Linked DNA regions of Homo sapiens. The protein of the gene in region 1 purifies or fractionates together with the protein of each later gene. This does not show direct contact. Each region holds a gene or a part of one and is shown in the gene's direction. Other genes may lie near its edges.

Region 1 (4,226 bases):
TGGGGGTCAGAAAGCAATCTTAATCCTATTTCCACCAATGCCTTACTTTGTAAACTCAATACAGACAAATGCTCTTTTCTGTGACATTATCTCTAAAAAGCTTCATCCTACTAAGAGCAATTTCCATTTTGTTGAGAAGTGCTGTCTTTTAGTCCCTGAGGGCCAAGACAGAGAGCTTGCTGCGTTTGCAGCCAGGATAGCAAGAGTGGTTCCTGGGCAGACAGCTGACTTCAAATTCATTCTGTGACCTTGTGCAGACGATTCAAGTTTGAGAATAAATGGGCAAATGGGCAGATTTTCAAATGAGAAAATCACTCTAGCCCTTCAAGCCCTCCCCAAAGCGTATACTGTTACACTTTGCTCAATATTTGCTAAGCATTCATTTATAAAGTGCTGGGTGTCAAATTATGTCAGATACATTTTTAAAGGCATTAAGCCGTAGTGGAAAATGAGAGATGGTCAGTAAATCTGAGTGCAGAGAATCCCTGCCTAAGCCTCTCAAATTATATCATGAGCAGCTACTCTTCCTTACCCACACTCTTGAAATCTGCTCTCAGTAAAGAATTTACTATCAGTTGCAATGTTGTTTGAATTTAGCTCAGACTTCCAGAAACACTTAGGTCTTAATCCTGTTTTCCCATGTTGGAATGTGTGGTTATATTCTCAGTGAAAGGGATGGCAGTTATCAGTGGCAGGTGATGGGATGAGATCAGATATCCTCCCTAGGAGAGGGACAGAGGACAGAGAGTTCTCTGGGAGCCTGCAATCACTCCATCCCCATTCTACTCTGTCTGCGGCAAAGTCACCCTTTAGGCTGCCATAGCCGGCTTCTCATTTCCCCAGCAAGGCTAAGCATAAAATACAACTCCCTTCCCTACCATTGTGTCCCTGTCCCCCCATCCCCATGAAGGGCAGTGTGTACTCATGGACACAAAAAAATCACTTTCTATAGGTCCAGCTGCAGATGTAGTCCCACAGCTACTTTCCCCCCCAAATTTATAGAATAAAAAGTATACAGTGTGGCAGATCTAGAAACCCAGGAATGTATCTGTGCTGCAGCCCTTAGGCAAACCCAGATGAGTTGCTGGGACTGGTTGGGGTGGTGGTAGCATTTGTCTCAACAATGAGAAAAGAATCATAAATCCCAGGAGGAGAACCCTCAGAAATCTTCCCCAAGACCTGGGCATGAATCTCACTCCATCAGTTTTCCATGCCGGGTCAGTGCTGACACAGCAGGCTCCAAAATTCTCAGCTACTGAAGAGGAAATATTCCCCATCAACCTCTTCCTCCCATTCCCATTGCTTCCTTAGAAGAAGCTTCAGATGTTCTTACTCCAAGGGAGGTGCAGATTTCTTGCTGGTGAATGGAGACACTTGTGCTGGAAGGTCTGAGGCTTGGCTTATAAAGAGATCTCCTATTTTGTTAGGAGGGCTCCCTGTAGTACCCCAGCCTTTAAAGATACAACTTTCAGGTGGCATCAACATGGCTCTGTGCCTGGGGAGGGGTCTTCTTTCCTTTGAGTGGGGTTGTTTGATATGACTTCTGGGTGTGGTCTCATGGCTGGTCTTCTGCTTTTTTTTTCCCTCCAAAGAACAGTAACAGCGATTATGTGGATGTCTTGCCTTGAAGATAAGGCTGCCGGACAAAGCAAGTTGAAGAGATGAGTAACAGTTCTCACTGATGACCCACTTCTGCAGGCATAGGTCCAGAGCACCAAACTCTAGTGGACAATTCAGACTCTCCTGGTTGTGTAACTGAAGATGTTCTGCCCACCAGCACCAGAGGTCACTCTCCACATCCCCGCCTCCCAGACATATACCAGGAGCAATTTCAAAACCCTCTCCAGTTTCACTCTTCTTTCTTGGAATGGGACAGCCTGAACATTTTCCCTTTGACTTGTTAAAGGTACCACCCTACATCATGGTTGACACCCTCCTTTGGACCATGCAGTCAGAGGGGCAGCTTTATACAGAGGAGGGGCACACTTGTCTGTGAGTTTGAAGCCCTGAGTTCCAGTCCTGTGGCTGTGTGACTTTGAACACGTTTCTGCCCATCTCCAGGTCTTAGTTTCTTTGTCTCTGTGGTTGGGTGGGATGATAAACATTGCCCCAGTCTCTCTGTTGAGCCTGCTTGTGTCAGGTGAAGGTGAGGGATCGGGAGTGATGGAGATGCATACAGATCAGCACCTTCTCTGTACCTGCTGGACCCCCATGTGCACCCTTCTCCCTCCAGCCTGGGCTACTCTCCTCCTGGTTCTTTCTAATCTTAAACTTCCTGGTGAGCATTGCCCCAGCCACACTTTCTCCCTGGTTTTGCTTAATTCCACTTATGCATCAGTCATTTCAACAGCATGAATGTGGTTCTGTACAGTGATGTATGTGGAGATTTCTAAAATATTCTATGTGTGATTTCTGTTCCCAACTAGGTTCTAAGTGCCATCAAAGCACGGTTGGGTCTCCCTTGTATCTTCCACAGTGTGTAGAAATTTGTGCTGCCCAGAGCTGTGCCTAGTTCATAGAAACTGACTGGAAGCACATTGCTGAGGGAGGTTTGTTGAATTGGTTTTTAAGGTTTACTGAAATTGATTTGCTGAATTTTTCTGCTAGTTCAAAATGTGAATTAGGACCTGGTCAGTTTGAAATATACCAAATTCTATGCCCTTTCTCTTACCTATCATCAAATTGTAGTAATGTATTTCACCCCACTGGACTTATCTTCAGAGTTTTAAAAGAGAGGAGCTCTCGACTTAGAGGTAATATGAACAGATGAACAGACACTGTGGCTGGAGCCCCAAAGTGTGGAGCATTGTGAGATTTGGGGTCACAGCAATTTATGGCTACTATTCCCTGGGTCTGGTAGGTAGGACAAATGTCCTCTTTTACTTTTCAAAACTGGCTTAGGTATTCATGGACCTTGATTCTTCTATATACATTTTATAATAAATACGTGAAATTGCTTAAAACCTCTTTTTGGAATTTTTAATGAACTTGCAACAAATTTGTAAATAGGAGAGAACTGACGTTCTTGTGATGTTTTCCCATGCATAAACATGCCACATCCATGTTCTTGGGTCATCTTTTTTGCCCTTTCATGGAGTCATAAATTTTCCCAACTGAAGTCTTGTATATTCTGTTAGATTAATTCCTATTTCTAGTTGCTGTAAATGATATCTTATGTTTTATTACATTTCTAATAGGATATGGTGTTGGTGAAATGTTAACCCTCTCATTAGATCTACTAGTTTACCTGTTGATTCTATTGTGTTTTCTATGTAAATGATTTTGTCAGCTATAAATAATAACATTTTATTTTCTCTTTCCTTGCAATACCTATGCTCATTTATTTTTTATGTTTACCCATTGGTTAGGGCCTCCTGTATACATTAAACAGTTCATAGTCATGATAGTGAGTATTCTTACACTGTTCCCAGTATTACAGGGAATGCTTAGAAATTTTCTTTATTTAAACATTATGTTTGTTGTAGCCTTGTTAAAGGCTATTTTATAATTTTTACTAGAAATATTTTGACATTTATTGTGATTTTTTTCTATCTCTAATCTATTGAGATAGTCACATTCCTTTTGTCTTCACTCCATTATAAAGGTAAGTTACCTTAATAAAATTGTTGATATCATTTCATCCTTGCATTGCTTCACTTGATAATATTTTATTATTTTTCATAAACTGTGGAATTTGGTAAGTTAATATTTCATTTAAGATTTTTGCATTAAAACTCATAAACCAAATAGGACTATAATTTACTGAATCATGGTTACACTGTTCATATAAAGCGAAGAAAAGTCTTTTTCCTTTTACCATTTTCTGCAACAACTCTTCAGGTAAAGATTATTTGTTCTGGGCTGGGTGTGGTGGCTCACACCTGTAATCCCAGCACTTTGGGAGGCCGAGGTGGGGGGATCACTTGAGGTCAGGAGCTCAAGATCAGCCTGGCCAACATGGTGAAACCCTGTCTCTACAAAAATACAAAAATGTAGCCAGGTGTGGTGGCACACGCCTATAATCCCAGCTACTTAGGAGGATGAGGTGGGAGAATCGCTTGAACCCGGGAGGTGGAGGTTGCAGTGAGCCAAGATCATGTCAGGGCACTCCAGCCTGGGTGACAGAGTGAGACCCTATCTCAAAAAATATATATATAGTAAATAAATAAATAAAAATAAACTTATCTGTTCCTTGACATTTTTTAGTACAGTACTTTCTTATAAAA
Region 2 (4,226 bases), on another chromosome or scaffold:
CCATATCTTAACATCAACTGACTTGGGACTTTATGACCTGCTAAATCCCTTCCCAGTAGCATGTAGACTAGTTTTTGATTGAATAATTGGGATAAAGTGTGTGTACTCCAGGGGCTGGGATTTGGGATCATCTTAGAATGCTGCCTGCCACAACTCCCATTCCTGGAACAGTGAAAATCTACAGGCCTACTTGAAGTGGGTGGGTGTGCGAAACAGGTAGAGGGTGATGGGGTAAGTAGGGGTCACAGAGGAAAAACAAGCATATTCATTAACATTTCTCATGTCACCCTGTTATATTTTATTTATAAATTTTCTGAATAACATAGATGAAAAAATTATTAATCCAAGATGGAATTCTGTTTGAGTGGCAACAAGAATTGTGCTTTCTCTGCTCAACAGCAAATGTTAAAAGTTCATCTAATGGTTAAGTTGTAGATGCTTTATTGCACACATCAGAGGTCCTCAACCTTTTTGGCACCAGGGACAATTTTGCCACAGACCGGAGCAGCGGCAGATGGTTTTGGGATGATTCAAGTGCATTACATTTATTGTGTGTTTTATTTTTGTTATTATTACACTGTAATGTATAATGAAATAATTATACAACTCACCATCATTCAGAATCAGTGGGAGCCCTGAACTTGTTTTCCTGCTACTAGATGGTCCCATCTGGGGGTGATGGGAGACAGTGACAGTTCGTCAGGCATTAGATTAACATCAGAGGCACACAGCCTAGATCCCTTGCATGTGCAGTTCACAATAGGGTTTGCACTCCTATGAGAATCTATTGCCTCTACTGATCTGATAGGAGGTGGAGCTCATTGAGAATGCAAACAATGGGGAGCAACTATAAATAAAAATGAGCTTCGCTAGCTCACCCATCACTCGTTTTCTTGCTACGTGGCTGGCAGGGGGATGGATGGGGACCCCTGGCATGAATCTTCCAAAAATGAAAAGTTAATTAACTTTTCACCTATGTATGTCTCATCTGAGCAATTAGATCATAAGCTTTTTATAAATCAATGACATACATATTTCATATACATAAAAAATAAAGAATAAATTATTGATTTTCATTGCAAGCACTAGAGAATGCTTATTAAAAAAATGACCAGCAGAGGTGACAAAAACCACAGACTAATTCAGGAGAATGACTATTTTTGTTTTATGAACAAATATTCACTTATTTGTTCATTCTTTTAATGATGAATATTTGAAAGCATTTATTCTGCACCAGCCACTTTGGTACGTGTTGTAGAACAGTGGTCCCCAACCTTTTTGGCACCAGGGGCTGGTTTTGTGGAAAATGCGGGTTCAGGATGAAACTGTTCCACCTCAGATCATCAGGTATTAGATTCTCATGAGGAGTGTGCCACCTAGATCCTTCACATGTGCAGTTCCCAATAGGGTTCAGGCTCCTGAGACTCTAATGCCATCACTGATCTGACAGGAGGCAGAGCTCAGGCAGTAATGCTTGCTCACCCACTGCTCACCTCCTGCTGTGCGGCCTGGTTCCTAACAGGTACCCAGTCTGCAGCCCCAGGATAGGGGATCCCTGCTGTAGAAGATTGAAATACCTTATTTTGGGGAATTACAGCCTCACAGAGCCAAAAAGACCACATACAAGTAACATACTACAAAGTAGAGGTTGACAAATAACATAAAAGAAAGCAAGATAAGTGTTTAGGTGGTTCAGAAGGGAAAAAGCAGTTAACTTAAGCTGGAATTATCATGTAATACTTGACAGAGGAGGTGGTACTTGAACTGCACCTTAATGAGTGGCTGGGATTTCTACCAGCAGAGACAAAGAGAAAGACCGTTTCAGGAAAAAGGAACAGTATGAACTAAGGGACAGAAGTGGAAACTCCTTGAAGAGCAGTAGATCCAGTTGGACTAGGGCAGCTGTTCTAAAGGTGTGGTCCCCAGACCAGGTGTGTCACCTAAGAACATGCTAGGAATGCACAGTCTCAGGCCCCACCTTGGATCTACCGAATCTCAATCTGCAGGGGTGGAGGTGGAGGTGGCAGCAAGCTGGGTTCTCACAAGCCCATCAGATGATTCTGAAGCATGCTAACATGGTAGCATGGGCTGCACTGAGAGTAATAGCAGGAAGTGAGGCTAGAAAGATAGAATGGGATCAAATAAAGTGGAGAGGCAGATATATATATATAGATATATATAGATATCTATAGATATATATAGATTAGATATCTATAGATATATATATAGATATATATATATTGTTTAATACTCTGCCTCATTTCAAAAATGAAGTGGAAAATGACAATGTAGGAAATTTGATATTTTATTCAGTAGGCAGTGGAACATGCACGGGAGGAAAAGGGCTAGGCTCACGTAACTAATCAAGCGACAGAGCTGAATTCTGATTGACTCCCAAACAAGCAAGGGAGAAAAGCCCAAGGCAGAGGAGAGTGTGGTGAGGGTGTCATATGTCATTTCTATCATTCCTATTCTCTGCCCTTCTTAAACTCATGCCCCTTAGCAGCATAATGTTCAAGGACTCTTTTGGTAAGTCTAGGAGTAGATAGGGAGAACAGTCTCTTGTCTTCCATTAGAGTGAAAAGTTGAGGCTGGGCGTGGTGGCTAACGCCTGTAATCTCAACACTTTGGGAAGCCGAGGCAGGAGGATCACCTGAGGTCAGGAGTTCAAGACAAGCCTGGCCAACATGGCAAAACCCAGTCTTTACTAAATATACAAAAATTAGCCAGGCATCGTGGCAGACACCTATAATCCCAGATACTCAGGAGGCTGAGGCCAGAGAATCACTTGAATCCAGGAGGCGGAGGTTGCAGTGAGCCTAGATCATGCCACTGCACTCCAGCCTGGGGGACAGAGCAAGACTCTGTCTCAAAATAGTAAATAAATAAATGAATTAATTAATTAATAAAAGTTGAAAAGAGCAAACTCTGCCAAAAGAAACTAGTGATGCTATTTAAAACTGTCAGTGGTTTCAATGATTGCCTAATTCTCAGTTCTTATAAAGGGTTAATAGTGATGCTAACATCTGAGATCATATTTCCCTTCAACAAGATATTTATTTGTTAAATAATATTAAATACTTCTTTTTCCCTTTTAGGGCCAAAGATTCTGTTAAACACTTTCATGTTGAATATACTGGATATTCATTTAAATTTGGCTTTAATGAATTCTCATCTTTGAAGGATTTTGTCAAGCATTTTGCAAATCAGCCTTTGATTGGAAGCGAGACAGGTAAGCTATGAGCAGACACTTGACTTATGAAATAATGTTTCGGGATGGAGGAGAGACAAGGCAGATTTCAATTTAAGAATGTCATTGTTGTCATTTATATTTCAGCATTATCTTGAAGAGAAAACAATGTATTTTGTATAAAGTAGATATTTTCTCAGAATGTGTTACTTAATGGATTGATTAAAAGCACACAATTTCTTTAAAATGGGCTCACCATTTTAAAATAACATATACAATACACACAAAAAGAACAAAGGTAAAAATGACTTTTTGATTACTCATAATTTCAGATATAGGCAGTTTGCATATGAGTGAGACCCACAGAAGTAAATTTTGAGCATTTTAAAAACTAAAATTCCCACTTAAATGTTCACAGAGATCACTGAATATTGAAAATATTAACTAGGAAGCACTCTCCTAAGTTATAAAATTCTGTTTCTATTGTCACGGTTTTTTAAATAAGATTTTAAGCTAGACTTAACTATGGCTGGAAAAGTTTGAATTTTCCTGTTTGAATGGTTAGAGAATTAAACCAGAAAAAAATTCATGTGTAAAGAAAAAAAACACAAAAAACAGTCTATCTTGGCACTTGAATTATCTAAGATTGAACATCTTGTTTATTTATATTATTTTAATGAAGTAAAATATCATCCCTGTATTTGTGATATAGAATCACAACACTTTTGTCCTAAATAATGATAAATCTTAGTTAATCAAAGACTAGGAAATTCCAAGAACCTGCGGCACAAGAGGAACTCAAGACTTAATAACACAACCAGTTACCATGAGTTTGTACATACGTGTTTTCTTGGCAAACTTGCCAGTGGGCTTTCTGTTAACTTCAGTGTGATGGGAAGAGATGGCATCATTGGCTTCTGTCTTTTCTGCTATTTATGTGGTGTGGGTAGTCCCTGATGTGACTCACACAGTGTCTAGTATACATGAAGTGCACAGCGGAAACTAGAAAATAGTTGCTCTGCTTTATACTGACCAC
Region 3 (4,226 bases), on another chromosome or scaffold:
CATACATCTGCAGGCTTCATATGGCTGCCACCCTGGATTTTGCCAATTACGGAGATTTTAAAACTAAAAACTAATTAAATGAATGATAACAAACTGTCATCTTCCAACACCTCATTTCTTGAAAGAAAGCAGCCTTTGACACCAAAAGAGGCAGGAAGGGCATTAAAAAAAAAAAAGCCAGTCATTTAAAGCAAAGAGATTGAACTTCTTGAAAAACAAACCCTACCACCCTTAGTTTTCTGTGTTCCCTGCAGAGTCGCCGTGGCCTGACGGAGACGGCAGAGGCAGACAGTCCCAGGCTGAGGGGTGTGCAGGGCAGCCGGGTTTTCTGCGGCTGCAGAAGTAGCAGGCTTTGCCCCCCTAGCCCTGGAAGCCTGGAGCCACCCTGCTCTAGAAGTGACTGCAGAAGGAAGCCACACACTCACCCTCCTGCCCTAGCAAAGTCCATGGGAAAAGTATACCTGCCCCATGGCCCCTCAGATCACCCAGGTGCCCTGACCTCATCCTGCCTGGGCCCCAGCAGCACTCCCTCCCAGGCCCCCTCTGGTGGGCAAGGGGACAACGGCCGGAGTCTCCACCTGATGGTTTGGGCAAGTGTGCCTGGAGTCTCAGGAACTGAGAGCAGCCTCACCAGGGAGGGGCCTTTGTGCTCAGGAAAGAGAACAGGATTTGACTATGTAAATGGACTTGAGCGGGGGTTGGACATCAAAAGACAGGGCTACAGTTCAGTGCCACCCATGTGACTTAGGAGTGCACATTCTGCGCACACCCAGCAAACCCTGCATTTCCTCGAGAGAGGTCAGCCCCGTCACCTACCACTGGGCAGGAAAGCTTTGATCTCACCTCAGCAGCTTGGAAAGCCCTGCTTGACAGGGAGCCTGGGCTCCATCTCGGGGCACAGACAGTTGCAGTGGGAAGACTCCAGCAGGTGGCTGCCTGGTTTGGGTCCAACTCTGCCGTCTTTCAGCCAGGGGCTCTTCTAAGTAGAGCCTATGTTGTCCCCACCTGGTCCCCACTCAAATCCCCCGGCAGAGTTGGCCCTGCTCCGGGGGGAGTCTGTGGGTGCCTCCAGGGGACGTTGGGTACATCGTGGGTGGGAGACATTAAGAGCTGTCAGGCTCATGCCCTCTCCTGCCACGCAGGGGCCAGCACACCTGGCAGGGCCTTATGCTGCAAAGAAGAGATGCCTTGGGAATGGGGTCAGTCAATGCAAGGGTCCATGGGTTGGCCGAGCCGGCATCCCCTTGTGCAATCTGCACAGGCAAAGCTGATCAAAGGCCCAATGTCAGTATATAGGCTGCCCTCTCTGCAGGAGCAGCTGGGGCCCGGGATCAGGCCTAGAGTGGCCGGCTCAGCTGTCTGCCATCCAGCCTGGAGTTGCGCAGGAGGGCGGCGTTCCCAGCCAACCACTCCAGAGAGAGGGGGCTTCCCTCATGGGGGAGGCGAAGGCACGTGGCTGCCTTTGGCTCAGAACCCAGTGCCTGGTCTGGCCACAGCTGACAGTGTGGTTTTGGTTTCCCTCCACATGTGGCCTTCCACAGGCCACCCAGGCACCATGGCAGGGTCTTGCTTACCCCTTCCCAGGGGCAGTGTAGACAGTGCACCGGACAGACCTGGCTTCACCAGCAGAAGGTTGTTACCAACCTGCTCCGCCTAATAACAGCAGGCAACTTCCAAAGAGCTCTGTGCCAGGCACCATTCTAGGCTTATATTGACTCATTTGATGTCCACGAAGACCTTCAAAGGAGGTCTTATTATCTCCACTTTACAGATGGGGAAACCGAGGTGCAGAGCGGTTTATGGAACAGGCCTAGTTTACAGGACTAACAAATAAAAGGGCCAGGATTGCATGCATGATCTTCCTGGAAGCGAGAAACAGAGACCATAAGGTGGCCTGTGTGGGGCGGGGCAGAGCCTGGAGAGGGAACTTCTCGTGATGGAGCCGCAGAGAAGGGACTTGGGAGGGCGAAACTCCTAATCTCAGAGAGTCCAACAGAGTTGGAAAGCTGTGGTGTGAGCGGGTGGCTAAGTCTCCCTTTCGAAGCTTCAGTAAAATAGACACTGTTAATTGTTTTTGTGCAAATGCAATAAGGCACTATTTTTCATATCTGATATTGACAGTCAGTGGGAAAAAATGCTGGCCCAGGTCGTAGCCAGAGCTACTGACATCTGGCTCACACCAGAAAGCCGGCCAAGGGGCTTTATCCAAGGCTGACTGTGCCGGGTTTTCTCTCTGCATGCAAGACCAGGAAGGGGTATGTGCCCTGGAAGGCCTATGTATTTCACTCACTAACTGTATCTTCCATGTGAAGTGACGCAGAGCAAGCATGTTAAAATGGAGTCTCCAGGTTTTCTGTGCCTACGCTCAGCCCCCGTGAAAAGTCCTTTCGGGTCCAGAGATTAGGCTCCAGCTTTGATGCTTTGCATGTTTGTCTACCTGGTAGGTTAAATTCATAAATTCATGAACACAATCAGCACTTCTTGGGTTTTTTTTTTTTTTTTTTTTGACAGAGTCTTGCTCTGTCGCCAAGGCTGGAGTGCAGTGGTGCAATCTTGGTTCACTGCAACCTCCGCCTCCCAGGATTAAGCAATTCTCCTACTTCAGCCCTCCAAGCAGCTGGGATTACAGGTGCCTGCCACCACACCGGGCTAATTTTTTTTTTGTGTTATCCTCAGGTGATCTGGCCTCTTTAGCCTCCCAAAGTGCTGAGATTACAGGCATGAACCACTGCACCCAGCCTTTTTCTTTCTTTCTTTCCTTCTTTCTTTCTTTCTTTCTTTCTTTCTTTCTTTCTTTCTTTCTTTCTTTCTTTCTTTCTTTCTTTCTTTCTTTTTTTTTTTTTGAGACAGAGTCTCGCTCTGTCGCCCAGGCTAAAGTGCCATAGCATGATCTTGGCTCACTGCAACCTCCACCTCCAGGATTCAAGCAATTCTTCTGCCTCAGCCTCCTGAGTAGCTGGGATTACAGGTACCCACCACCATACCTGGCTAATTTTTGTATTTTTAGTAGCGATGGGGTTTCACCATGTTGGCTAGGCTGGTCTCAAACTCCTGACCTCGTGATCCACCTGCCTCGGCCTCCCAAAGTGCTGGGATTACAGGTGTGAGCCACCGCACCTGGCCTTTTTTTAAAATTATTATTATTTTATTTTTTATTTTTGAGACACGGTCTTTCGCTGTTGCCCAGGTTGGAGTGCAGTGGCACAATCACAGCTCACTGCAGCCTTGCTTGATCAAGCGATCCTCCTGCCTCAGTTTCCCGAGTAGCTGGTATTCCAGGTGCAAGTCACCAAGCCTGGCTAATCTTTTTTATGTAGAGACAGGGTTTTGCTATGTTGCCCAGGCTGGCCCCCAACTCCTGGAGTCAGGTGGTTCTCCCACCTTGGCCTCCCGAAGTGCTGGCATTACAAGTGTGAGCCGCTGCACGCAGCCTCACATCAGCACCTCTCAATCAATTGGTGCCATCTCCCTGCACATGAACCCTTGCGTCATGATGACATGTGGTCCTCACAGCCAGGCATTTCTCCCCACCCCAGACATAGAGTGAGAGGAGCTCTGCTCTTCCCTCAATAATTCGTGCCATGCTGTGCACTCCTGAGGAGCAAGGCTCTGTGGTCTGCTGGCTCTGCTGGGCTGCATTTGCAAAATGCTAACCTTCCTGTGTCAACCCAGCATCTTCACAGGTGGAATGAGGATGACAAGGCCAAAGCCCACTCGTTGGGTTATTTTTTCAAATTGAGGTATAATTCATATTCCATACAGTCACCCTTTCTATGGTGTACAATTCTTAATTTTCTTTTTTTCCAAGACAGTCTTGCTCTGTTGCCCAGGCTGGAGTGCAGTGGCATGATCTCGGCGCACTGCAACCTCTGTCTCCCGGGTTGAAGTGATTCTCCTGCCTCAGGCTCCTGAGTAGCTGGGATTACAGGCGCATGCCACCATGCCCGGCTAATTTTTTTTTTTCTTTTTGAGACAGAGTCTCATCTCACCCCTGTTGCCCAGGCTGGAATGCAATGGTGTGTTCTTGGCTCACTGTAACCTCCGCTTCCTGAATTCAAGCAATCCTCTGCCTCAGCTTCCCAAATAGCTGGGATTACAGGTGCCTCCCATCACACCCAGCTAATTTTTGTATTTTTAGTAGAGACGAGGTTTCACCATGTTGGCTAGGCTGGTCCCGAACTCCTGACCTCAGGTGATCTGCCCGCCTAGGCCTCCCAAAGTGCTGG
Region 4 (4,876 bases), on another chromosome or scaffold:
TTTTGTATTTTTAGTAGAGACGGGGTTTTGCCAAGTTAACCAGGCTGGTCTCCAACTCCAGACCTCAGGTGATCCGCCCGCCTCGGCCTCCCAGAGTGTTGGGATTACAGGCGTGAACCACTGAGCCTGGCCTTTAAAATATTATCATTATTATTTGAGATGGAGTCTCGCTCTGTTGCTCAGGCTGGAGTGCAGTGGCACGATCTCAGCTCACTGCAGCCTCCACCTGCCAGGTTCAAGGGATTCTTCCGCCTCAGCCTCCCAAGTAGCTGGGACTACAGGTGCCCACCACCATGTCTGGCTAATTTTTTTGTGTGTTTTTAGTAGAGACTGTTTTCACCATGTTAGCCAGGCTGGTCTCGAACTCCTGACCTCAGGGGATCCACCCACCTCGGCCTTCCAAAGTGTTAGGATTACAGGTGTGAGCCACTGCTCCTTGCCTAATTACCTGTCTTTTTTGTTATTGCCATCCTAATAGGTATGATGTGGCATCTCATTGTAGTTTTGATTTGCATTTCTCTGGGGACTAATGATGTTGAGGATCTTTTCATGTAATCATTGGCTATTTATATAACTTCTTTGAACTGTCTATTCAGGTCGTTTGCCCATTTTTTCTTCTTTTTCTTTTTTATTCTTGACACAGGGTCTCCTCTGTTGCTCAGGAGTTCAGTGGCACAATCTCAGCTCACTGCAGCCTCTGCCTCCAGGTTTCAAGCAATTCTCCTGTCTCAGCCTCCCAAGTAGCTGGAATTACAGGCTCCCACCACCACGCACAGCTAATTTTGTGTTTTTAGTAGAGATGGGGTTTTGTCATGTTGGCCAGGCTGGTCTCGAACTCCTGACCTCAAGTGACCTGCCCGCCTTGACCTCCCAAAGTGCTAGGATTATAGGTGTGAGCCACCATGCCTGTCTCGCATTTTTAAAAAGCTCCCCAGGTTGTTCCGATTTGCTGCTGGGTTGATACTCACATTCCAGTGCTCAGATCTGTCCAGAAGAGTGGCTGCAGCACAGTTGTCTGTCCATAACTACCTCTATGGCCTCTCGTTTCCACCTCGTTTCTCAGGGTCTCAGTCCAGGGAAGGCCTTGCCACTTTGTGGCTGGAGACTGTGTCTTGCTTTCTGCTCTGAGTTCATCAGTAACTTGGGAAAGGGCTGTTTCAGAGCAGGCCTGGGCCACCTCAGTGCTGAGGAAGGGCTTTGTCTTGCAGGCTGGCTGGGGGTTGGTTGCCTGGGAGTGTTTTCCCCGAATTTGCAAGGGGCTTGCGCCCGGGTTCGAGTTTACGTGTGTCCATGACCAAGTCTTGGAGGGAAGGTCCTAGTGTAGAGTCTGTGGGTGGGTTCACTGTGTCTGTCCCCGTCCCTCAGATTTCTTTGTGTCTGGTATGTATGCCTCTTGGGGCCTCTATTTATCTGTCAGGGTCTCCGATGGGAGGGTCTCCGAACCTGAGGTCTAATTGAGCCTTAGAATATCACTCCTGCTACCAATCCAAAAATTCCGTCTGGGACAAGTCTCCCAGGAATGGCATGGGTGGGAGGGAGGCTCTTGTCTAGGACTCAGGCGCTAGCTTTGAGCGGTGTCTGTTTGGGGGCCTCAGTCCGTGTCTGTAAGTCTCCCTAGGGAGCGGCTCTGGGGCTTGGTCTGGAGAAGCCACTTCTCTCTGGCTCTGGCCTCCTGGGGCTCCCTGCAGCTGAGGCCAAGGCTGGGGTGTGGCCGCCTCCGCGGCAGGCCGGCGGGCTGGGCTCGGGTGGGCCGGGGCGCTCCCTCCTTTCCACGCCCCCACCTCGGGTTCCCCCGTTCATCGCCCCCCCATCCCCATCTCAGCGGGTCCCGGCTTCCTTACATGGTCACGGCCGGGCTTCCAGCTCCCGGACGTCCCCCGCCCCCCGCCCCCACCGGACACGGCCCCCGCCCTGTTCGCCCCGCGCCACCGGCCCGCGCCCCGCCATGGAGGACCTGGGTGAGTGGGGCCGGATCCCCGGGTCCGTGGCCCCTCACCGCTGCCCAGAGCTGCCTCCCCGCCGTCGCTCTCCCGCATCTCCCCATCCCTGTCTTCTTACTTCTGCTTTTCGCCTCTGCCCGCGCCTCCTTTCCAACTCCACGTCCCCCTTCCTGCCTCTCCCTTCCTGCCTTTCCTGGGCCGGCCGCTCCCTCCCTTCTTCCCTCGCTGTGCTCCTCCATCCCAGGCTGCGGCAGATGGAACGGGAGGTGCGGCGCCCGCGGGCGCCCGGGCGCGGGGCTCTGGGGAGGGAGGGGTTAAAGGGGCCTCGGCCCGGGGACCGGGAAAGTAGAGGGCACGGGAAAGTCTGGCATCAAGTTTTGGAGAAAAAAAGCGGGCCTGCCTGCACCAGAGTTTTGGGAGAGGAGGAGTTAAGGGCTCCTGAGCACAGTGAGGGTCAGGTCCTTGAGGCAAGGAAGAGAATAGTAACTCAGGAGTGCCTAGGCGCCCGCGAAGGCTTCAGGGTTTCACGCGGGTGCTCAGAGACGAAGACTGAGGGCAGGACTTCTGGGTTCTGGAAGTGAAAGGGCTCAAAAGACCCGGATCTGGGGATGCAGGGATGGAGAGAGGTGTCTTGTCCGGAAGGGGGACCCAGGTATCTCGTCCTCCCTGCGAAGCCTGGGGCTGGAAGGCTGTGCGCTCCACGGGAGAGAGGGGCTTCCGGCCCCTGGCGGTAGAGGGCGCTGCTCGGTAGGGGTAACTGACGCTGTACCGCAGATAAACAGCCAATCAGAAGGCAGGTCCCAGCGAAGCGCCAGTGAGGAGCCCAGGGCGGGACTCAGGGGCCTGGGAGTGGCCAGGCTGGGCGGGGCCTGTGTAGGTAGAGGGAGGAGTTAACCAGCATGGAAGAGAGAGCGTCCAATCAGAAAGCTGAGGGCCAGGCACTGGGCCAATGGAGCAATTTGGAGGGGAGCCAAATTTGGCTTGGGTGAAGAGCCCATTTTGACTGCATCAGAGAAGATGGGGAGAATAAAATAATCAGGAGGCTGGGTTTGTGCTTGGCTCCAAGCGTGAGCAACTGGGATATTCTGGTCATAAATATTCCTTGCTACCCTTCGAGCAGTGCTCTGCCTGGCTCTGGCCCTGTGACCTCTTCTCTTAATACTGGCTTCTGTCCTTCTCCAGTACTGCCCACTGGGAACCTTATCTTCTGATCTAACCGTGACCCTTGTCTCTCTCCCTGATGGCCTCTTCCTGCAGATGCCCTGCTCTCTGACCTGGAGACTACCACCTCGCACATGCCAAGGTCAGGGGCTCCCAAAGAGCGCCCTGCGGAGCCTCTCACCCCTCCCCCATCCTATGGCCACCAGCCACAGGTGAGATCGGATGTTGGGGACTGGGGCAGCCACTAGGGCCAGGCTCGGCCTGGTCTATGGGGATCTCAGCCTCAGTGGGGCAGAGTGCAGGCCTGTCATCCCACCTGTGCGTCTCCGCTCTGTAGACAGGGTCTGGGGAGTCTTCAGGAGCCTCGGGGGACAAGGACCACCTGTACAGGTGAGGGGCCTGGAAACCAGGGCATGGGGGCCAACTGAGTCTCAGGTGAGGAGGCTTGGATTCCCCACCCCTGAACCCAGGCTCCCACTCTGCTTCCCAGCACGGTATGCAAGCCTCGGTCCCCAAAGCCTGCAGCCCCGGCGGCCCCTCCATTCTCCTCTTCCAGCGGTGTCTTGGGTACCGGGCTCTGTGAGCTAGATCGGTTGCTTCAGGAACTTAATGCCACTCAGTTCAACATCACAGGTACCAGGGTGACTGAGAGAGGCCTTGATGCGATAGGGGCAGGGGAGGGAAGGGTGGGGCAGAGACTAAGAGGAATACACTTCCCAGAGTAGCAGTTAAAGGGACCTAAAGCCTCAAGTGTGAGGGTGCGTTGAGCATGGCCCTATATGTAGCGTCCTCCTCTCCTCTCTCCAGATGAAATCATGTCTCAGTTCCCATCTAGCAAGGTGGCTTCAGGAGAGCAGAAGGAGGACCAGTCTGAAGATAAGAAAAGACCCAGCCTGTGAGTTTGGCGTCGTTGTCAGGGCTGAGAGATGAGTCCTGGATATCTGAGTCACTAGAGGGAGCGTTGCTCTGGGAGGCTCTGAGATGACACAAGCATGTTCTTCACAGCCCTTCCAGCCCGTCTCCTGGCCTCCCAAAGGCTTCTGCCACCTCAGCCACTCTGGAGCTGGATAGACTGATGGCCTCACTCTCTGACTTCCGCGTTCAAAACCATGTGAGTTGGGCAGTGGGCCAGTGTCCATTTGTGGCTCCCCAACCCCTTCTAGACAATTCCACATCTGCTGCTTTGCTGACTCAATTCTCATGTCCTCCCCGCTGCAGCTTCCAGCCTCTGGGCCAACTCAGCCACCGGTGGTGAGCTCCACAAATGAGGGCTCCCCATCCCCACCAGAGCCGACTGGCAAGGGCAGCCTAGACACCATGCTGGGGCTGCTGCAGTCCGACCTCAGCCGCCGGGGTGTTCCCACCCAGGCCAAAGGCCTCTGTGGCTCCTGCAATAAACCTATTGCTGGGCAAGTAAGTGGAGCCTTGTGAGAAGGGAGGCAGAGACCTGTCACAGACCCATCTTTAGTGAGAGCTGGGCTTTATGCTGTTCCCTTTTAGTAAGTTAATCTGGGAAGTGGGTATCATTATTACTTATGTTTTATGGATGAGGAAACTGAAGCTCTGAACCACACAGCAGGTTAGTGGTAGGGTGAAAATTCCAACCATGTTACCATTTATTGTGGTCCTACTGTGTGCCAGGCACTGTGCCAGCTCCTTTACAAACCCTCATCTCATCTGATCTTCACAAAACACTCTGTGGCTCCACCCAATATCTCTCAGGCATCTACAAAGGCTCTCTCTTCCTCCGTCAGAGTCTGGACTGGGTTCACTGG
Region 5 (4,226 bases), on another chromosome or scaffold:
TTTACTTTGAATGAACTTTTGTATGTGATGTGAGATAGGGGTCCACATTCACTCTTTTGCATGTGACTATCCAGTTGTTCCAGCACCATTTGTTGAAAAGACTATGCTTTGCCCATTGAACCGTCTTGGCCCCTTTGTTGAAAATTAATTGGCCATAAATATAAGGGTTTATTTCTGAACTCTCAATTTTATTAAGCTGATTGATGTGTTTATCCTTGTGCCAGTGTAACATAGTTTTGATTATTATACCTTTGTAGAAGTTCTGAAATCAGGAAGTATGAGTCTTCCAAATTTGTTCTTTTTTCCAAGATTGTTTTGGCTATTTTGGGTAGGTCCCCTGCTGTGCAGAAGAGTTAAACATGGCAAGCATAAATGTTTATGCTTAGAAAGGCCTTCCTGTAAGGTTGACTCTTGGGTGGCCTCTAGAAACCTAGGTTTCTGATAACAGTGGCTCACTATGCCTGAACTGTTAATACAAACAATATGCTTTATGCAGAACACCTGTTCTCCTGCTGGTAGTCTGACATTTTGGTACAGGCTAGGCAGAGTGTGCCTACATTCTGTGCAGACGGTGCCCCAATAAAAATCCTGGGCACTGAGTTTCTAATGAACTTTTTTATGAAACGCTGTTGAGTTTTGTCAAATTTTGTTCTTTGCATCTATTCAGATGATCGTGTGTTTTGTATTCTACTAATATGGTGTATGACATTGACTTTCATATGTTGAACCAATCTTGCATTCCTGGAATTAATCCCACTTAGTCATGGTGTTTAATACTTTGCTAGTACTTCATTGAGAATTTTTGTGTCTATGTTTGTGAGATATTGGTTAGTAGTTTTCTTTTCTTGTGATGTCTTTGGTTTTGGTGCCAGGGTAATACTAGCCTCATACAATATGTTGGGAAATGGTTCCTCTCAGTTTTTTGCAAGAGTTTGTGAAAGGCTGGTATTAATTCCTCTTTGTTTGATAAAATTCACTAGATTATCTTTTAAAGATGTTTAAAATGAAATATCTTTTACATTTAGCCACTTACTTTTCTCCCTGTTATTTTGTGTAGATCTGTATTTCCATTTGTATCACGTTCCTTTTGTATGCAGAGCTTACTTATTCTATTTATTTAAGAGATAGGGTCTCACTCTGTCATACAGGCTGGAGTGCAGTGTGCAGTCACCACTCACTGCAGCCTCAAACTCCTGGGCTTAAGCAATCCTCCCACCTCAGCCTGCCAAGTAGTTGGGAGTACAGGTGTGCCACTGCACTCAGCTAACTAAAAAAGATTTTTTTTAGATACAGGCTAGCTATGTTGCCAACACACCTAGCTAATTTTAATTTTTTTTTTTTTTTTTTTTTTTTTTTTAAGATACAGGCTATGTTGCTCAGGCTGGTGTTGAAGTGGCCTCAAGCAATCCTCCTGCCTTAGCCTCTCAAATAGCTGGAGCAGCCACTGTCTGTAAGCATCTGAAGAGCTTACTCTAATATTTCTCATAATGCAGATTTGTTTGTGATGAATTCCCTCAGCTTTCATTTGTCTGAAAAGGTTTTCAGCATTTTTAGGATATCATAGCATTGACTTGCCGTTTCTGACAAAATGTTGCTATAATTCTTAACTTTGTTCCTCAGTATGTGATGTGTCCTTTTGTGCATAATGCTTTTAAGATTTTCTCTTCTGGGGCCTGGTGTGGTGGCTCATGCCTGTAATCCCAGCACTTTGGGAGGCCAAGGTAGGTGTATCACTTGAGGTCAGGAGTTCGAGACCAGCCCGGCCAACCTGGTGAAACCCTGTCTCTACTAAAAATACAAAAAAAGGTTGGACATGGTGGTGTGTGTCTGTAATCCCAGCTACTCAGGAGCCTGAGGCAGGAGAATCGCTTGAACCTGGGAGTTGCAGGTTGCAGTGAGCCGAGATTGAGCCACTGCACGCCAAGCCTGGGTGACAGAGCAAGGGTCTCAAAAAAAAATTTTTTTTTCTCTTCTTCATTCTTTTTCAGTAATTTGATCATGATCTGCCTTGGCGTGACTTTCTTTAGGTTTAGGTTTATTCTCCCTCTGGTTCATTGACTTTCTTGGATTTGTGGGTTCATAGTTTCATCGAATTTGGGAAAATTTTCACCTATTATTTCTTTACATAAAGTTTCTGTTATCCCCCTTTCTCCTTTCCTTCTGGACTCCACGTGCACATACACTAGACTGGTATATTTCTACAGAGAACTGATTCTTTTTCATTTTTTTCATTTCATTTTGAATTATTTATATTGCTATGTTTTCATGTCTATTGATCCTTTCTTCTAGTGTCTACCCTGCTATTAGTGGATTTTTCATTTCATATATTTTATTTTTCCTCTTTATAAATTCCATTCAGGTTATTTTTTGTATCTTTCATTCCACTCTGCATCATGTTCATGTTTTCCTTTTCATCTTTGAGTGTATTTGTAATAGCCATTTTAAGATTTTTGCTTCTTTCCTGAACTGTTATTTCTGGGCCCTTTCCTATTGACTAATTTTTCTCCTGGTTATGGGTCACACTTTCCTGCTTCTTTGTATGTCCAGCAAAATTTTATTGGATGCTTGATATTTTGAATTTTGCACAGGTAAGTGTTGGATTGTTTTCTTTAGAGTGTTTTGCCTTTTCAGGAACTTTTGGATGGTTGATCAAGTAGCCTTTGTTCTAGAATTAATTTAGCCGTACTTCTAATGTGTGGTCATTCTAGGTTCCCTACTAAATGCCCCTTATAGTTGATAATGCCTCTACACTCTAGCTAGAGGGAATGTGAATTCTTTCTCATCATGAGCTCAAGGAAATGTTCATCCTACAGATCCCTACTATTCTTTCATGGTAAGTTATTCTTGCCTGGCCTCATGGGGTTTCATGTTGTATATATTCAGATTATTCAACCAAAGAATCAAGGAGGGGACTTCTATGCAAGTTATTGTTTTGTTTTTATTTGCATACCTCTGTTCCTTCCAGGACTCTGCCCTGCAAATTCTAGCTGCTTTTGCCTCCTTGAGCCATGGTCTCTGGCTCAACTCAGTGGGATCATTAGACTCATGTCTTACAGCCTGGTGACACTTCCATGCAATAAGCCGGAGTGGTCTGTTCAGTGACCACAGTACTGCAACACCTGCCAACCAGTGTCTGAAAATAGTGGCTCATGTATTTTGTCCAGTTTCTAGTTGCTTACAGTGGGAGGGTATCCTGGACTGTATTTCCCCTGCATGGTCAGCAGCGCACCTCCATTGAGTCTGCATGTGTTTAATCTGATGGCTCTGTTGGCTGGCGTCTGTTATAGGTTATAAGTATAGCTGCCTGTGCTTCCACCACGAGCACCTGGGGTGTCTTGTGGCATGATTGAGCTAGCTCTGAAGCTGACTCCCTCTTCTCACTCCCTGCCTTTTCTCCCTTACCTTTTGCAGAAAAGGTGTGAGCGGTACTGGGCCCAGGAGCAGGAGCCACTGCAGACTGGGCTTTTCTGCATCACTCTGGTGAGCTGTGGGAGTTTTCAAGGAAGATTCCCAGGGTGGAAAGGCTTTGGGTTGGGCCTAAAAGGTTGAATGATTTAACCCACAGTCCACTCATACTGCAGGAAACCCTCTGGTGTTAGCCTGCAAATAGTTAGAACTTACTATAGGGATAGCCTTTGCATTTTTATTTTGGCTACAATCAGTTAATCTCTGTCATGTAAATGTGCCTGGTTAGGTTGTTGAAATTCTTACTTCTCTTACCATTTCAAAAGAGCTTGGGGAACTCTCTCAAGTCATACATACAGTTAGTACTTAATAAATGCAATAAAAGTTTCATTTTAGAACAAAAGACATCTCTTTTCATTGCAAAAGGGCTTGTGTTTTTATAATAGTTCCTCTTTTGCTCCTGTGTCAAATGTTTCCTTAATGAAAGCTTTGGGGAAAGTTTGGGCTATATGAATTTTTAAAATGTTTTCTGTATTTGATTTTTTAATCAGGAATGCTTTGCTTTCTATAAATGTCTTCTGGTACCTATGATCTTTGTTCTCCTCCCTCTTCTTACTTGCCCCACCCCCCTTACTCAGATAAAGGAGAAGTGGCTGAATGAGGACATCATGCTCAGGACCCTCAAGGTCACATTCCAGAAGGTACTGTGACAGGGGAGGAGGAGGTAAAGGGGCTCCTGAAAGGGGAGAGGTTTCCTCTCCTGTAAAAATGGGCATCATACTAGTACCCACTTCCTCAGTTATTGTCTGGTAGACATAAAT
Region 6 (4,226 bases), on another chromosome or scaffold:
TTGGTTTATATATGATGATCTAAGCTATAACAGTCATTTTTATGGCATTGTCTGCTTACTCTTTCTTTGCTTGCTTCAGACTCATCAGTTGGCTTTTGCATTCCATATTGAGATTTTGAAAGAAATACTTCAACGAAAAATGAATTGTATTTTTGTTATAGTGATTCTGCTGCATGGATTACAAGCACTCTATCTCCATGCTTGGATAAACTCCATCAAAAGCACATTATCCTCCTACTTCTGTGGCCAGCTGCCTAATTGTATCTGCTGTAACCACATGCTGTTGGAACATGATACCAATGAAGAACAGAAATGATAAATTACTCCCTGCAGGTGATAGTGATAATGATAATTTTTAATTTCCTTCTTCCTCATAAGGTCTAGTCTGATCTTATTTCATTGGTTGCCATCCTATTACATACACACAATGTGTCCTCTTTAAAGAAATATTCATCACACTAAAATACCTGAGAAAGTCATTTTTTATCCCAAATCATTGTTCTTCAAATGAGTGTATATTAAATGAACTGCATTTACCTTTATACATATAAACAAAACATGGCTTAAAACAGATTTTTTCATGATTCAGTTTACAAATGCCATGAGTTTTCTTTTTGTGAAATCCACAAAAAGATGAGTTCTGAAACTATTACATGCTGAGGAATATTTAAGATGTACAACAGAGCTCCATGCTTGTATTTTCCTATGTGCATCAAAGTAATTGTCGAGGATTCTCACAAAATATCAAGAGTGATCAAGCTATCCCAGAAATTCACTATGTATACGTAGTTTCCTTTCATTCTGTTTTCTTCTATCATTGTTTTTGTTTTTTTACTACTTACCACTCATTCTCCCTTCTCTCACTCTAAGGGACTTTTATAACTAAACTTTTAGTTATAAATTTTTCTGACTGTGGTATAATTCAGTGAAATTTTATTTAACTGTGACCTTGCCTTTGCAGATTAACCCAACTCCTACAGATAGATTTTAATGCTTTTTTCCCCCTCAGCAGTTCTCATTGCCCCAACAAGATATATACGTGAGACAAAGGAGAAATTTCTTCTGCAGTCAGCCTTCAGACCTCTCTGATCTTTTACGAGCATATGTCAAGTTGTAGCTCCAGTTAGTTATTTGTTGCCATTGCCTATTAGTCATTATTTCCTATGGTTGTTTATTCTTATATTTGAATGACTTCCACAGAGATAATGTATATTCATTGAAATTAACATTTAAAAGATGTTAAGATAGCCTGTCAAAGTGATGGTAGCAAGGTGGCCAAACTGTAATTGAAAATAGTGGCATGTTTATATTTTCCTGACAAAATAAGTCATTTATTCCTAAATCAGCTGATATTTGGTTATATCATTATTCCTTATTTAATAGCTTTGCAGAAATAAAAACACTAATCATAATTCATTTGGTTTTATATTACTATGTTTCAAATTGAAGGGGTTTTTTTTTTTCTTAATCTCTTTTAATTAAGAGTTAGTAGCATGCAACTGTTGTCCCAGCTACTCAGGAGGCTTAGGCAGAAAGATCCCTTAAGCCCAGGAGTTTGATTTCAGTCTGGGCACCATAGCGGGACTCCATCTCTAAAATTAAATAAAAATTTTTAAAAATAAGAATCACACAGAAAAGAAAAGAAAAAAAGGTAACACCACAAACCCTGTCTCTTTAAGGGGCATTCTAGATCATGTTGGTGTTTGAGGGTAGACACCCATTTTAAAACCAGAAACTCCCTTTGTTTTTTTCAGAGCAGCAATCTTCCACTTTCTCAACTGTACGAATGCTGTCTAGTGAGTAGATAGATTATCTGCACACAGTTTGAATTTTAGGTGAATTCCTTCCTAACTTCTCCTCATGCTTCTGCTTTCTGTTTAATGTGTGCTGTGGAACTGAGTATTACTGTAAACCAAACCTCATTAGAAATGTGACTGTGCTTGAAGACTCAAAGATACTGTGAGGCATTTCACATAGATGCAATTTCAGATATTTGTCATAGATTCTTTCCAGTGCTTACAACTGAAGTTAACTATATCTGTCATTTTTCTTTGTCTTAAAACTTATTTTTTGGTTACCCAGAACTTCCCAGTATTTCTTTCACTATATTATTAAGGGCTGGAAATTTTTAACTGAAATTCATACACAGATTTGGAGATTGATTAATAAGCATGTGTGGCTGGACGTGGTGGCTCACACCTGTAATCCCAGTGCTTTGGGAGGCCCCCCAAAAAATGTGGGGAAAAATAAATCCTAGTAAGCTAATAAGAGCTTTTGTGAAAATTTGGGTTTAAAAGCAGCTTTTGTGACATCTTCAGATACATGAAGAGAAGCATTTCTAATTCTGATTAAAAAAAGACTGGCAATAAATATAACAGTTATAGAAGTATAATTACAGAAAGATGAGAGGCTGTTACATGAGTTTAAAACAATTTTAAAAGGTACACTAAAAATTTTGAAAACAAAAGGATGTTTTAGAACTATGGGTTTTCTGTTCTTGTTGTTCCAGTTTACCTTCTGAAGAACTTCTTTTAAAATGTTTCTAGAGGAAGTCTATTGGCAATGAATTTCTTTACTTTTCCTTGACTTGAAAATGCCTTCATTCATTCTGTCTAGATATAGAATTTTAAAACTTTTTTTTCTCCATCAGTGTCTTTTTCTTTTCCATCTGGACCACCAATGACACGTTAGATCTATAGGTCTCCAAGGTTCTATAACATGCATTTTAATTGCTGTCTTTTTCCCTTCTTCAAATTGGATAATTTCTATCAATCTTCAAATTCACTGATTTTTTCCCTGTCATCTCCATTCTGCTATTCAACCCGGAAGTTTCAGTTATTATAATTTTCAATTGAAAATTTTTCATTTGGTGCTTTTTTATGGTTTCTCTGCTGAGAATTTCTGTCTTTTGATTCATTCCATTGTGTTTTCTGTCACCGTTGGAACATGGTTATAATTGCTGCTTTAAAGTTTTGCTTGATAGTTTGAGCATCTGGATTATCTCAGAGGTGGCTTGTCTTTTCTCCTGAGAGTTGTTCAATTTTCCTGATTCTTTGTATGTTGAGTAATTTGAGATTGCACCTTAGATGTTGTGCATGCTATGTTGTGTAAACTGTGTGTCTTGTTAAAATCTTAAGGATGTTGATGTTTGTTGTTAGCAGTCAAGCCCAGTTAAAATCAGACCATAAGTTCTGTCTTAGTGTCCGAGCAGACAGTTGACCAAGTCTCAGTCACATTCTCTAAGCCTTTGTTATGCTGTTTTGAGGCTGTCTTACACATACCTAGTTTACGGATTAGTCTGAGACTTTTACAGATTTTTCCAATCTCACGTCAGTTCTCTAGGCCTTTACTTGTTGGTTTCGGTTTTTTTTCCATGCATGTTTTATCCAGAGGTTAATCCTGAGACTTGCAGCAGTGATTCAAATTTTAGTTCAATGCTCTAAGCTTTTGCTGTGTGGGTTTGGATCTCACCTGAAAATGCGTAATTTGGGGGTTAGGCTGAGACTTCTGCATTTCCTACATACAGAATTAGATCTTTTCTAGCTCTCTCCTCTCCATATTTGTCCCACATGTTCCATGCTTTTCAGAGTTAAAAATTATTAGTTCCATTCAAGTTCAGTTAGTCAATGCTTTAATAAAGTATACTGACTATGTAATAAAGCTAGCCATATTTGAGACTGAAGACTAAAAATTTTAATTTGGCTAAAATTTATTGAGAACCTACTATATAACATTGTATTGGGTAAGGGGCATAGAAGTGAGTTATACATATGCCTTGCTCTTAAATAAATTGCAGTATAAGGCAAACTGTAATATACTATCGTAACTAACATAACAGAATGTATAATAAACACATTTGCTCATCAAATATTGTATTGTATTGTATCCTATGGGCCAGGTTACTGCTCTGGGCACTGAGAGTATAGTGGTGAACAAGACAGGCATACAGGAATAAATAAGAAAACAGTTGAATTGGTCTGTGAAGGGGTATCATAAGTATCTGGAAATCAACTGATAAAGTTATATTTAGAAATATTCTAATTAACCACGTGGTTTTTATGATAATCTGTGGCTGAGTACTACATTGTTTTATAATTCTATTTGGCAGAATTATTACTAGTATTTTGATTCTCTCTTGGTATCTAAATTGCAGTGAACCTCAGGGTTAAATATTGAGTTTGGTTTGGACCTAATCCATATTAACCCTACCAGATCAATAAAATGTC
Region 7 (4,226 bases), on another chromosome or scaffold:
ACTACAATAGAATATATGGGGGTGGGGCACTTGAGTCCACATATTAACAGAATCTATTCCAGGTGTAACTAGGAACAGGGAGTTTATCACAACAATTGCTCTCCAATTCAGTCAGATCAATATGGCACTTAATTTAGCATTTGGGGGAGGAGCCATTTGCAAAGCTTTTTAGATCTTATTTTGTGTCTTCCCAGATTACCGTGCTTCAGAGAAAGATTTGCTTAGAGTATAGTAAATTAGATCACATGAGTCACTCTTACTGAAGTACAAGAGTCCTGCATCAGAAAGGCAGATTTGCCAAGAGCAGAATTTCAGTAATCACATGTGAACATGGCATTTAGAGTTGAGGTGCTGCTGTGCAGAGTACTTGGAGCTTTTAATGACTCTGACTTTTTATTATTATGACAAGTTTGATTAGCAGACACAAAAATGAGTGAAACAAGTTCCCTTGAATTACCACCCAGGTTAAGTAATAAAAGATTAAATGTAATATTGAAGTTTTCTGGGTACTCTTCCAGATTGAATCTCCCTTCTAAGAGGTAACCAGTGTGGTAAATTTGCTGTTATTATTTCTATGCATTTTCTCTTGAGTTTACTGTATATATTACATATTTAATTCATATATAGTATTGTCTTAAGTAAATAAAATATTAGCCTAAATTGTCAAATATTGTTTGCATTCTTGGAAATATTTTTTTATGATTAATTCAAGTTGCTTCGGGTACAGTTACTTTATTCATATTCATTGCAATATAGTGTTCTATAAATACTATAAGTATATACATATATTATATTTTTAAATATATTATTATTATATATTTAGTAGGTATGGTAAAAATATATAGTATATTTTATATATAGTACATATATTTCATATATAATATAGTGCATATATATTATAGTATATATACAGTATTAAAATATGTATTATATTTTATGTTTTTCTCTCTCATTTATAGGTATTTTTCTTACTATAACAGACTGTAGCAATTTTTTGGCACATGTCTCACTGTGCACACATACTTTTTAGATATTTGCCTAGAAGTGAAATTGCTGATGACGTGTAATGTGTTTCTTCTCTTTTTTGCCCCCAAACCCATAACAGTACCCTGTAGTATTTGTAATTTGCAAAATTACATAATTTGTAATTATGTTTAGCCAGAATTAAAGACCATTTTTTAAGACAAACTGTATAATCTCTTATACTTGTGAAAGCCCCCATGAATATTTAATAATGTCACATTTTGTAATTTTGCCAGTTGAATGGTTTTAATTTGTCTTTTCTGATTATTAGTGTGGTGAGCATGTTTTCATAGAACATTCAGGTTTTTTTTTTTTGCTGTGAATTGCTTAAACATAATTTTTACCCATTTCTCTAGTGAGACATTTATCTTTTTTCTTATAGATTATACAAATTCTTTATATATCCTGGATTCTATTTTTTTTTTTTTTTTGGTATTGCATTGGAAATATATTTTCCTAGGCTGTTTTATCTTTTTTCTTCTTAATGAAGGAAATAATTTTGTATCGTTTTTTCAAATATGATATACACTGTGCTTTGTTAAAATTGATTACCTTTTATTACATTTTTCCTTTTTCCATCTTGTTTTGGGAAACCAATCTTTATGGTGAAGTCATAAAATACTTCTTATATTTTTTCTGAAAATTTTTCACTTGTGCTTTTTTTTTTTTTTTTTTTTTTTTTTTTTTTTTTTGAGATAGGGTCTCACTGTCTCACCCAGGCTGGAGTGCAGTGGCGCGATCTCGGCTCACTGCAACCTCCGCCTCCTAGGTTCAAGCAATTCTCCTGGCTCAGCCTCCCGAGTAACTGGGACTACAGATGCACACCACCACACCCAGATAATTTTTGTATTTTTAGTAGAGATAGGGTTTCACCTTATTGGCCAGGCTGGACTCAAACTCCTGACCTCAGGTGATCCACCCACCTCAACCTCCCAAAGTGCTGGGATTACAGGCATGAGCCACCACTCCCCGCCTCAGTTTTGCTTTTTACATTCAGGTCTTTTGATCTACCTGGAATTGATTTTTTGTTTTATGTGCTGAAAAATATGACTGCCACTCATAAGTGTTCCATATGTGGGTGGGCTAGCACTGCCATTTGTTTATAAGGCTGGTTGGCATCTGTCCTCATGTGAGACACTTGTTTCTGGTTATTGTCTGTCAGGTTGGTTTGTGGATGGTCATCTCACTGAATCATCACAATGTTAATGAACCAAAGTGAAAAGCATTAATTAAGACTTCAAACAAAATCGGATTATGTTTAGCCAGAATTAAAGACCATTTTTTTAAGACAAACTGTATAATCTCTTTAAATCGTATGTGAATTGCTCATGTTCAATGAGTCCTTAGCTATGCATAGCGTCATTTACTTAGTTTTAGTTCTTTATAGAGTATATTAATGAATCCTGTTTACTAAGGATGAACTTTCCTTGTGTATAGGACTATAGCAAAGGTAAACCTTAGAAATGGACTTCAGTACTTGGAAGGAAGAAGCATGACTCACTGTACGACTGTTGCATGACTGACCATTTGCCAGGTGAATTAGAACCTGGAGACAGAACATTTCAGCACAACAGCCAACAGCTTCTGATCAATGTGTAACCCTTGAATAAGCACTCAAAAATATTAATCCAAGCACAAAATGTTTCGAAAGGAAATTATTCCATCATATTGTATATATTATATTAAATTTTACCCTGGAATGAGGAACTAGGAAGATTGTAAAACAACTTCACTTACTTATACGCAGTCATAGAAAGTATTCTGTAAGAATTTACTTTTTATTCTCCAATTAAAAACCTCATACTAAACAAGCATGCTTTGTGCTAAACAAGTATTGGATTATTTAAATATTGGGTATTAATTTAAGAGAGTGTTAAAAAATGGCCTGGTTTAGCCAATGACAGATGCATAAATTCATAAGCTTACCTAAAATTAATCTCTATACCAAATATAAATTATATTCATACCAATAATTTTGATTTCTTCCAGTTAATGGTTTTTGTCACAATTCTGATAAAGGAAAGAAATTATTTTGGAAAATGAACAAATTTATTGTGTGCTTTTATTCATTCTTTTTGGCCCTTTTTTATATGACTTCAAGTTTGAGTTCTTCAGCACTCTGCCTTTCATAGACTCCAGGCTACTTTCCTAAGTTCTTTCCCTTTCCCCACCTGTCTCCTAAGTATAGTCTGCCTTACAATACAAGGTACACTTTACCCTCCCTCAACACACCACTCTGTTTCCAACTCATTGCCTTCCCCTTCTTGTCTTCTCAAAATACCTTTCTTCTTTTCTCTCTGTAGAGAATATGTTCATCCTTCAAGATATAACTTTATTGTTATGACCCTTCTGAATCATATTCCTATAGAAAGATCATCTCTCTCTCATTCGTGTTTGAATAAGACTGAGCACTTACCTGTATTACCCTTTAGTACAGCATTATTTGTGTCAATCTTAATAATCAGACTGTGACTAACTAGGACAAAGATGACAACAATATATCACTGTATTTATCTAAACTTGTACTGTCTAATACTCTAACCACTAGCTACATGTGCCTATTGACACTGAAAATGTGCTAGTGCAACAAAGGAACTGATTTTTAAATTAAATTTATTTTAATTTAGAGTTTCAGTTTAGATAGCCAATTTTATGCAATGAATATGTGGCTGGTGGCTACTGTCTTGGATAGAGCAGATACAGACGGTTTCCATCATCAGAGAAAGTTCTATTGGACAGTGTTGGGAAGAATAGACTCACAGTAAAATTAGAAGGAGATGAATTTATGAATAAAATAGTTTTACAGGGCATGGTAATAACATCAATGCTTTAATTTTCAGTGGATAGCTGCCACAGAGTTGTATTATACTAATGATTGTGTTGGTAAGGATAATTTTGCAACTTTGCAGATTTCAGCATGTCCTGCAAAGACAGATAATCTCAGCCTGATCAAGAAGGTAATGACAATGTGAACCATCAAAGGAACTAAAAGAAGAGTTAAAGCTATTTTTGGTGAATTCTTTAAATATTCAACCACAACTTCTTTTCCTGAGATGGAAGTGTAGTAATCATCATCCTTTAAGACACTGGGCTATAAAAAATGCGATTGAGCCAGTGGTCATAATTCCTTCCCTTAATGTTTTGATTCCTTCATGTGAGAAGATATATTCATGTCCTCTTTTTCAAATATTGGATTCAATTTG

Evidence for each region.
Region 2: the proteins of SH2D1B (region 1) and DAPP1 purify together in Homo sapiens (pull-down; one study listed by IntAct). This does not show direct contact.
Region 3: the proteins of SH2D1B (region 1) and INPP5D purify together in Homo sapiens (pull-down; one study listed by IntAct). This does not show direct contact.
Region 4: the proteins of SH2D1B (region 1) and TGFB1I1 purify together in Homo sapiens (pull-down; one study listed by IntAct). This does not show direct contact.
Region 5: the proteins of SH2D1B (region 1) and PTPN18 purify together in Homo sapiens (pull-down; one study listed by IntAct). This does not show direct contact.
Region 6: the proteins of SH2D1B (region 1) and PRMT3 purify together in Homo sapiens (affinity purification with mass spectrometry; one large-scale study listed by BioGRID and IntAct). This does not show direct contact.
Region 7: the proteins of SH2D1B (region 1) and ROBO1 purify together in Homo sapiens (affinity purification with mass spectrometry; one large-scale study listed by BioGRID and IntAct). This does not show direct contact.

Annotation. Positions count from the first base shown.
Region 1 is NC_000001.11:162,394,682-162,398,907, reverse strand, and holds the end of SH2D1B (SH2 domain-containing protein 1B), read left to right. Parts: intron 1-1,592; coding exon 1,593-1,628; 3' UTR 1,629-3,640; downstream 3,641-4,226. UniProt on the Homo sapiens protein: Cytoplasmic adapter regulating receptors of the signaling lymphocytic activation molecule (SLAM) family such as CD84, SLAMF1, LY9 and CD244. In SLAM signaling seems to cooperate with SH2D1A/SAP.
Region 2 is NC_000004.12:99,837,191-99,841,416, forward strand, and holds part of DAPP1 (dual adapter for phosphotyrosine and 3-phosphotyrosine and 3-phosphoinositide), read left to right. Parts: intron 1-3,098; coding exon 3,099-3,232; intron 3,233-4,226. UniProt on the Homo sapiens protein: May act as a B-cell-associated adapter that regulates B-cell antigen receptor (BCR)-signaling downstream of PI3K.
Region 3 is NC_000002.12:233,062,822-233,067,047, forward strand, and holds part of INPP5D (phosphatidylinositol 3,4,5-trisphosphate 5-phosphatase 1), read left to right. Parts: intron 1-4,226. UniProt on the Homo sapiens protein: Phosphatidylinositol (PtdIns) phosphatase that specifically hydrolyzes the 5-phosphate of phosphatidylinositol-3,4,5-trisphosphate (PtdIns(3,4,5)P3) to produce PtdIns(3,4)P2, thereby negatively regulating the PI3K (phosphoinositide 3-kinase) pathways.
Region 4 is NC_000016.10:31,470,244-31,475,119, forward strand, and holds the start of TGFB1I1 (transforming growth factor beta-1-induced transcript 1 protein), read left to right. Parts: upstream 1-1,908; 5' UTR 1,909-1,945; coding exon 1,946-1,958; intron 1,959-1,964; exon of another isoform or gene 1,965-1,980; intron 1,981-2,159; exon of another isoform or gene 2,160-2,206; intron 2,207-2,961; exon of another isoform or gene 2,962-3,007; intron 3,008-3,197; coding exon 3,198-3,313; intron 3,314-3,438; coding exon 3,439-3,491; intron 3,492-3,591; coding exon 3,592-3,734; intron 3,735-3,908; coding exon 3,909-3,996; intron 3,997-4,106; coding exon 4,107-4,212; intron 4,213-4,319; coding exon 4,320-4,514; intron 4,515-4,876. UniProt on the Homo sapiens protein: Functions as a molecular adapter coordinating multiple protein-protein interactions at the focal adhesion complex and in the nucleus. Links various intracellular signaling modules to plasma membrane receptors and regulates the Wnt and TGFB signaling pathways.
Region 5 is NC_000002.12:130,365,722-130,369,947, forward strand, and holds part of PTPN18 (tyrosine-protein phosphatase non-receptor type 18), read left to right. Parts: intron 1-3,411; coding exon 3,412-3,480; intron 3,481-4,043; coding exon 4,044-4,106; intron 4,107-4,226. UniProt on the Homo sapiens protein: Differentially dephosphorylate autophosphorylated tyrosine kinases which are known to be overexpressed in tumor tissues.
Region 6 is NC_000011.10:20,488,318-20,492,543, forward strand, and holds part of PRMT3 (protein arginine N-methyltransferase 3), read left to right. Parts: intron 1-4,226. UniProt on the Homo sapiens protein: Protein-arginine N-methyltransferase that catalyzes both the monomethylation and asymmetric dimethylation of the guanidino nitrogens of arginine residues in target proteins, and therefore falls into the group of type I methyltransferases.
Region 7 is NC_000003.12:79,757,726-79,761,951, reverse strand, and holds part of ROBO1 (roundabout homolog 1 isoform a precursor), read left to right. Parts: intron 1-4,226. UniProt on the Homo sapiens protein: Receptor for SLIT1 and SLIT2 that mediates cellular responses to molecular guidance cues in cellular migration, including axonal navigation at the ventral midline of the neural tube and projection of axons to different regions during neuronal development.